Homo sapiens: one gene and its partner. The protein of the gene in region 2 purifies or fractionates together with the protein of the main gene of each other region. This does not show direct contact. Each region holds a gene or a part of one and is shown on either strand. Other genes may lie near its edges.

The links.
Region 1: the proteins of CAPSL (region 2) and ZC2HC1A purify together in Homo sapiens (co-immunoprecipitation; one large-scale study listed by IntAct). This does not show direct contact.

Annotation. Positions count from the first base shown.
Region 1 is NC_000008.11:78,686,564-78,690,395, reverse strand, and holds part of ZC2HC1A (zinc finger C2HC domain-containing protein 1A), read right to left. Parts: coding exon 3,788-3,832; intron 1,175-3,787; coding exon 1,023-1,174; intron 1-1,022.
Region 2 is NC_000005.10:35,935,656-35,939,952, forward strand, and holds the start of CAPSL (calcyphosin-like protein), read right to left. Parts: upstream 2,968-4,297; 5' UTR 2,950-2,967; coding exon of another isoform or gene 2,899-2,949; 5' UTR 2,886-2,898; intron 1-2,885.

The DNA of each region.
Region 1 (3,832 bases), on a different chromosome or scaffold from region 2:
TTAGAGACGGGGTTTCACCGTGTTAGCCAGGATGGTCTTTATCTCCTGACAATCGTGATCTGCCCGCCTTGGCCTCCCAAAGTGCTGGGATTAAAGGCGGGAGCCACTGCACCCGGCTGCCAAAGAAAATTTTAAAAGGAATTCAAGTAGGAAAATTTAGACTACTTGATTTTAAGGCTTATTAAGGTTCACTATTCAGTATAGTGATAATGCGGTATTGACTAAAGGACAGGGATATAAATCAATGGAACAGAACAGCATGTCCTGAAATAAACCCATACATTTATATTCATCTGATTTCCAACCAAGGTGCCTCAGCAATTCATCAGGGAAAGAAAAGTCCTTTAAACAAATCGTGCTAAAACAATAGAATATCCACATAGAAAACAAAAGGAAAAACTGCCCCTTACTTCACACTATACACAAATACCAGCCTGAAGTGATTTACAGATGTAAGAGCTAAAAGCATAAAACTTATAGAAGACATGGGAGAAAAATCTTTGCAATCCTAGTATAGGCAAAGATTTCTTTGATACAAGATAAGGAGCATAAATCATAAAGAATTAATAAATTGGACTTAATCACATTTTAAAATTTTTGCCCCTCAAAAGACATCCTTAAGAAAATGGAAAGCCAAGTCACAGGATGGGAGAAAATATTCTTAATATACATCTGAGAAAAGACCAAGAATATGTAACAAGGTCTTTCACTCGATAATCTAAAAACATGTATACATATATATAATGTTTTTATATATTTTATATATACAAAACGTGCTAAGACAATAGAATATCCACATAGAAAAAGGGAACAATTGCCCCTTCACACTATACACAATTAGCTTGAAATGATTTACAGATATAAGAGCTAAAAGCATACAACTTTTATAGATATATAAAACTATATATCTATAAAAGCAGGTGAGAAAAATATAGTCTAATGTCATGAAAAGCATAAACAATAATCTATGAATGTCCATGAGCCATTTTCTCGTTTATAGCAATTATTAAAACTGAACTTACCACCTGTGTCCGAGAAGTTGGTTTTCCTTTGGTATCTGTAGAAAATTTCCCTTTATTACTAATACGTGCTGCCTGTTCTTTACAGAAATTTATATGTCTATCAGCTGCATTTTCATTGAATCTCCTCTGACAATATGGACATTGAATATAATCTATAACAGATAAAAACGGAAACAGATTAATAGCATAGTACTTGAAACGGACATTAAAAAATCTTAAGTTTCTATGCAGTCATTCAAAAAATATAAGTAATAACATCTGATAAGCAAAAATTCCCATATCCTTATAACTACCCAGTTTTACTTGTCTAAACTTAGTAAAGAGTTAAAAAAAAAAAAAGTCTGCTGGTACATGACTTCCAATTTTCTTCTAGCTTTGAATCAAATGTGTGAAGGAAAAAAAACAAAAGATAAATCCTTAGTACAAAAGAGTAAGCAGAGGAAAAACGTTATTTCTTTTTTGCCTTTATGTTTTCATTTATAATGGATACATACTTTATATAGCAGACTAGTTAGGAAGTAATAATACATGACGTTAAAATACATTTTAAAATACAGGCTCATCTATTAAAATTTTTTATTTCATCAAATGGAAAACTGTCAAGAAATAGTTTACTTATCTTTAAAGTGCTATTTTCTCTTAAAAGTCCCAACAGATGGAAGAAGTGATTAAAATATATCTCACTGACATAATTCAAATTTAAGAAACAGCAAATGTTTCCAAGATAAAATATCTTCCCAAAATGCAAAGCATACTGTAAATTAAACTTCTTTTGAAATTATTCCAGAACCATATTTTGTAGCATTGTAAAATAACTAAATGAGACACTGGGAATAAATGTAAAAATCTGGTAGTGTCAAAAAAGAATCTTAATTTAACAGGTTTACAACTTATTTTAACAGGTTTACTTTTTTGATACAGAGTTTGCCCTTTTCAATTTATATTCATCTGAGCTCAAAAATTTGTCCTCCTTACTACTGGAGTAGGTCTTAAACCTCTCATAAGAAAGAAATAAGCTGTTTTTGTCAGGCCCAAAAGATTAAAAAAACTTCTAAAGCCCAAACGATCCTGAAGAACTGGTACCCTCTCACTCTCTTATATTAGACATGAGAAATGTAGCTATGTAGAGTTAAGACACAATATCTAAATATCTTCAAAGCAGAGAGAAAACTCAAGTTCATGAAGAAAATAAAAGGTAGTATTAAAAGAGGCCCAGGATCAGTTAAAGCATACCAGAAACATTCATTCATATAAGTTAATTATTAATACTCTAGAACAGGGTTTCGCAAAGTATGGCCCATGGGCCAAATCCAGCCTGCCTGTTGCCTGTCTTTGTAAATGAAGTTTTACGGAAACACAGCCATGCTCATTTTATATTTATATATATATAATTTATATATATTTATATATAAATATAGATATAGTTTATATATAAAAATATAGATATAAATAATTATATATTTATATAAATATATATAATTTATTATATAAATATATATTTATTATATAGATATATATTATATAAATATATATATAATTTATTACATGAATATATATATTTATTACATGAATATATATAATGTATTACGTAAATATATATATAATGTCTTACGTAAATATATATAATGTATTACATAAATATATATAATGTATTACGTAAATATATATATAATGTATTACGTAAATATATATAATGTATTACGTAAATATATATAATGTATTACGTAAATATATATATAATGTATTACGTAAATATATATAATGTATTATGTAAATATATATAATTTATTACGTAAATATATATAATTTATTATGTAAATATAAAATTTATTATATAAATATATAATTTATTATATAAATATATATAATTTATTATATAAACATATATAATTATATATAAATATATATATAATTATGTATATATAGTCTATGGCTTATTTGTTGCAATAGAAACCTTATGGCATATAAAATCTAAGATATTTACTATATCTGTAGATATACTATATCTCTCCTCTACAATAAAATGTCAAAAACGATCATATCTAGATTTGCTAAAGAACTTTCTCTTTGTTAGAAAATAAATCCCAATCTAGAGTACTAACATAGCATTAATGTGGCTACCCTGTTACATTAACAACCTCTTTAGGCTGCTCTAATAAGGAATGTCAAAGTGTCAACTTTGTCACTTTAAGTTTTTCGGTATCTCAGTATCTCATACAAGGTTGCAAAAATCTTGCTTTGCTTTTAGTAACAATGACTCAAGCAACTTTTATCTGCTCAATGAGAAAAAATTTAACAATATACAAATTTAAGCCATAAATGTAGTCGAGCCACATGAATTATACATTTTAGGAAAATTATGATTTTTTTTATATCAATCTCAGATGAGAAGATACCAAGGAACCAGGCAACATAATTATATGACTCCTGCTGAATGACTACATTTCAATCCGCAGTGAGCATGGTTAAAATATTTCCTGGAATACTCACATTTAATAGTTACTATAATAATTTTTAAATGATATTATAATGCCTTGTTTAAATAAAAGTATTAAAATAAAAACATAATACACTTCCATGTTCTAAATTAATGTCTTTATAAGCCTACATGACTAGATTACCACCACCATTTTACACCAAATTTTAAAGATTATGCCTCATAACACTCCATGATTGTAAGTTAAGCTTAACAAGTGAAAATTTATAAAAACTCTATCATTATTTTCTTTCCACATGAACATTTCTGTCAACAATATTCCAAATACCAGGATCATAAGAAGGTGGAGGAGGAGGAGGAAGTTTGCCACCCT
Region 2 (4,297 bases):
TGACTTTATCTGCAGTGTTCAGTTCCATTATTCCAACTTGCTTCTGACCTTATGGTACCTCCAGACTTTTGGCCCTACATTTTCACCCCAGCCATTACCTACCTCATTCTCCCTTCTGGATCTACTTCCTTTCTTATCCATTTTACACACTCTGCGCATCTTTCTGACCATCTGGTACCAGTGCCTCCCTTCTTGACCCTCATTTTTCAACCTCCCACCATCTCAGAATAATAGCTAACTTGGTTCAATTTGCCCATGTTCCATGTACTTAACGGCAGACTGAAGTGCAGCTGAATAAACCCACATGCCAGCATGGACAGGTGTCACTGTATTTATTCTTTAACCACAGCTAGGCCTTCTGCAACACACAACTCAACTTTTATATGATGTTGGTCAGGTTCTTATTCCAGTCTCCTCAGAGGCTAATCCAAACTTTTGCCACTCCAGACCTTGCCTTGAAAGACCCAGAAAAAAATGGAACCACCAGTTATGAACAAATTCACATCATCCTCCTCCAAATCTATAAAAGTATAGCGCTCTAAGGGCATCCTGACTTCATCCTCCCTCCTCCCTCCTCCAAGAGATTGCTGAACTTCCTCCCATCTAAGGATGCCCTCTCTACCTGCAACACAGAGGCCTACCCCTCTAAGATTCTCAGCCATCAGTTATGCCCTTTTCCTCCTCTCCAGCAGCTCCTTCTTTTAGTTCATGAATCCGCTGTGGTCCCTCAGTCCTGGACTCCCTCTAGCTATCACCCCTCAAAGTCAAACTATTTTAAAGAATTTCCAGATTTTCTACTTTCTCATGCCCCATTCATACTTCGGTCCATTTCAATATGGTCTTCACCCTGTCATTCCAACAAATATACTCTTCAATAAGTCATTGCTAACCTGATTGCCAACTTCAACAGTCATTAGCCCTTAGTTCACTTCTCCAACTAGTTGACTATTGGTCATTCTTCCTTTTTAACACCCTTTCTCTCAATGGCTATAAATCTAACTCCCTGTCTCTCCTCCTCCCTCTTGGATCTGTCCTATTTTGTTTCTTCCTTGTCTTCACCTGCTTCTTAAGTGCTGTTTCTCAGGCTTCAGTTATCTTTCTCTTCTCACTATTCCACTATCTTATGGCAATCTCAGTCATATCCCCTGATACAATGATGACTAACAAATCTTTATTCCAATGTAGGCACTCTCTGGAGCCAGATTTCTCACAAAACATGTGCACTTGGATGACCTACAGACACTTTCAGTTTAATGTTCCAGAGCCAAATTCATTACCTATCTTCCTTACTCTTTGCTTCAGGAAACAGCAATACCATTTACCTGGGTCATTAACTGACCATTATCCTAGACTCTTCCTAACCCTTTACATCCAAATAGCAGCTAAGTCCTATAGAGTTTCACTACCTTGACACATCCCGCATTTCCATTCCCTCATCTCCATTGCCATGGATACTGACTCAGCCTAGGACATGGTCACTTCTCATTTCCACCATTGCAAATGTCTCCTAGTTGGTTTCCTGCCCCTAGCTTTGCCCTCTGTACTTTGTCTTTCAAAAGACTGAGCAATCTTTAGAAAATGAAAACATGAACTTCATGATATAGTTTAAGACCCTTTGATGGTCCCCCATTGCATACAGGTAAAATGAAAGTTCTTAGCATTGAATTCATGCATTGGCCTTTCCTATGTCTCCAGCCATTTCTAGTAATTCTCCATCCGTTCAAAATCTATCCTGCATCTCTACTCACTCACATTCCCCAAACACACCATAGCATTCTGTATCTCTGTGCCTTTGTACATGTAGTCACACTTGCAGGTACACCTTCTTTTTCCTGTTGGCCCAGAGAAGTCCCACCCATCCTTCCATGATCATGTGGTGAAGTCCAAATAGCATTCACATTGCAAGACAATGTAATTCGTTTTCGAATTACTTGCCCTGCTAGACAGACTATAAGGTCCTTACGAGGTAGAGCTGTATCCTTTGCATTTACTATCACCATATCATCAGGGCTTAGCAGGAGGCTATTTTATTGCTATTAGAATTTATCATTGTCATTGCTATTGGGTAATTTTTATCAGAATATAAATACAAATGTATGCCTGAAATTCAAATCTCAATATTTAAAACTTTCAATAACAAAATAGATTTTTGTGGTTGTAGGATTTGAGGAAAAAATAAGTCAAAAAAAAAAAACAGGTAAGAATTTCATCTACTTAATATGGTTTAAATACTCCCCAGACTGAAGGCAATAGAGATGGCTGCCTGGGTCATTGGTGTTGTCCTTTAATGAGAACGTAAAGGACCCCCTCAAGTCTCTGATGAATCAAATCAACTATTTGATATAATTTTGAACAAGCCATGTATGTACACTTTAATAAGCATCCTGATTTTTATTCTGATTCTCAGTTGTCAGTGTATAGCAGAAATAGCATAAGTTTAAGTATCAGACAAAGCAAGGTCTGAATGAAAGTTGAAATGTTTTATTGCTTTGTGACTTGGAAATGCTGAACCTCCCTGAAGCTCAGTTTTATCAGTGGTCATCAGGATCGTTAGAGCAATTCACCCAAACCCTTCACACTCAAATACCTAGTACCTAATGACTGCTCAGTAATGTTTACTTCCTTCCCCTTTACTGAATGAAATTTATTTTTGTGCATTTTTATCTAAGCATTTTTTTTGCAAAGATTACAAAAATCTTTCCCAGTACCAAGCTCTTTCCTCTTGCACTGACAGCCTAGTGATGGCTTCTCTAGTCCAAGAACTCTCAAAAGACTTTTAGATTTTCTTTTTAGAGAGTAACATCTACTGTCTTCTTTTCTCAGCTAAGACATACCAAGAAAAAAAAAAACATTAAATCATAGAATAGATAAAAACATTGATTTACCTTAAATGCTAACCTTTTGCCACCAGTTGCTTCGAACTGAAACTATGGACGCTGTCTCCTGCATCTAGGAAAACTGGTCCCTCCCAAGCCACCTTAGCCTCCTCCCTCTTACCTGTCTTCCTCAGGGGCCCTGGTCCACTCTCTTAGTATTAATTGGAGGACCTGGGATCACTGCTGCAGATTCACAGCCTGATTGGCTCAGCTCACTGTCAATCTCTACTCTGGTTCTGCCTTTTCTCAAGTTTACACTCCTGTTGCCTAGGAAATCTCAGTGACTGTGAAAGCTCAAGCCATTTGCACTGGGAGAGAAGCCAGCCAGAAGTTTTGCTGGCAATGGTTTGGTTTCTAGAACAGCATCAAAACTTGTCTCCCATGTTTTGTAAGGTAGTATTCAGCACATTGTCTTCTTTCTTTTAGGCAGCACCTTCCTGTCCTTCTGTAGTCCCCAGAAAGCTTACTGCTAGGGTGCCTCATTGCCAGGTGATACTTAAAACCACAACTCTTGGGAGCAGGCAGGGGTAATTATAGGTGATTCAAGGTTCTCCCTCCTTCTCTGCATTTGCAGAGGATGTCATTTCTGCTGTTTTCATCCTTGGTTTCTTCTCTTCTTTTCTCTTTTTGTTTCTTTTTACTTATGTTTTTCACATGTTCCCTAGCAGTTACTTTGCCAGATAAGAAGAAATCTAGTGGCTTATTTGGAGGAAAATATCTACACTATGCTCTCTTTCATTGTGTATCTATGACATCCACCCTATCCTTGTCATTCCCACTCCTGCACGTCCTGCTTTCAGGAGCAGGCAGGTATAATTAGTGGTGATTCAGACCTTACACCTCTCTCTTTCTCTCTCTCTCTCTGACACACACACACACACACACACACACACACACACACACACACACACACATCTCTGTATATAACATAATCCTGGCTGTGTGCAACATCCTTGCAGTATAAGAACTCACAAAACGGAATAGATGCCAGGCACCCAGCTCTGCAGACTACTAGGCAAGTTCTTTCATGGATTTGACAAGGGCTTGGGTCCTTTGCTATATCTGCAGGGAGTATACATAGTAGCTATTTCATCCTTTTATCTGAATTGTCTGAAGAATTGTCCCAGAATTAAGCAATTAGAACTGTGGTTCTTCCAGGGCAACCTCAGATGTCTAATGTTTTCTTTTCAGTGGTTTAACCCACAAGATATCACGCATTTGAAACTTTTAAGAAGAAACTTAATTTCATCTGTGAATGCAGAAGCAAATATGAGGGCATGGGCATTTAAATATGAAGTATTTCTTGAAAGCCACCTACTGGAGAGTAAGTTTGGTGCAATAATTTAAGAAAAGATAAAAAAGAAACAGGAAAATTGGGACAACGGACAGCATGATGGAGCCACCGTGCAAGCCCTCAATAG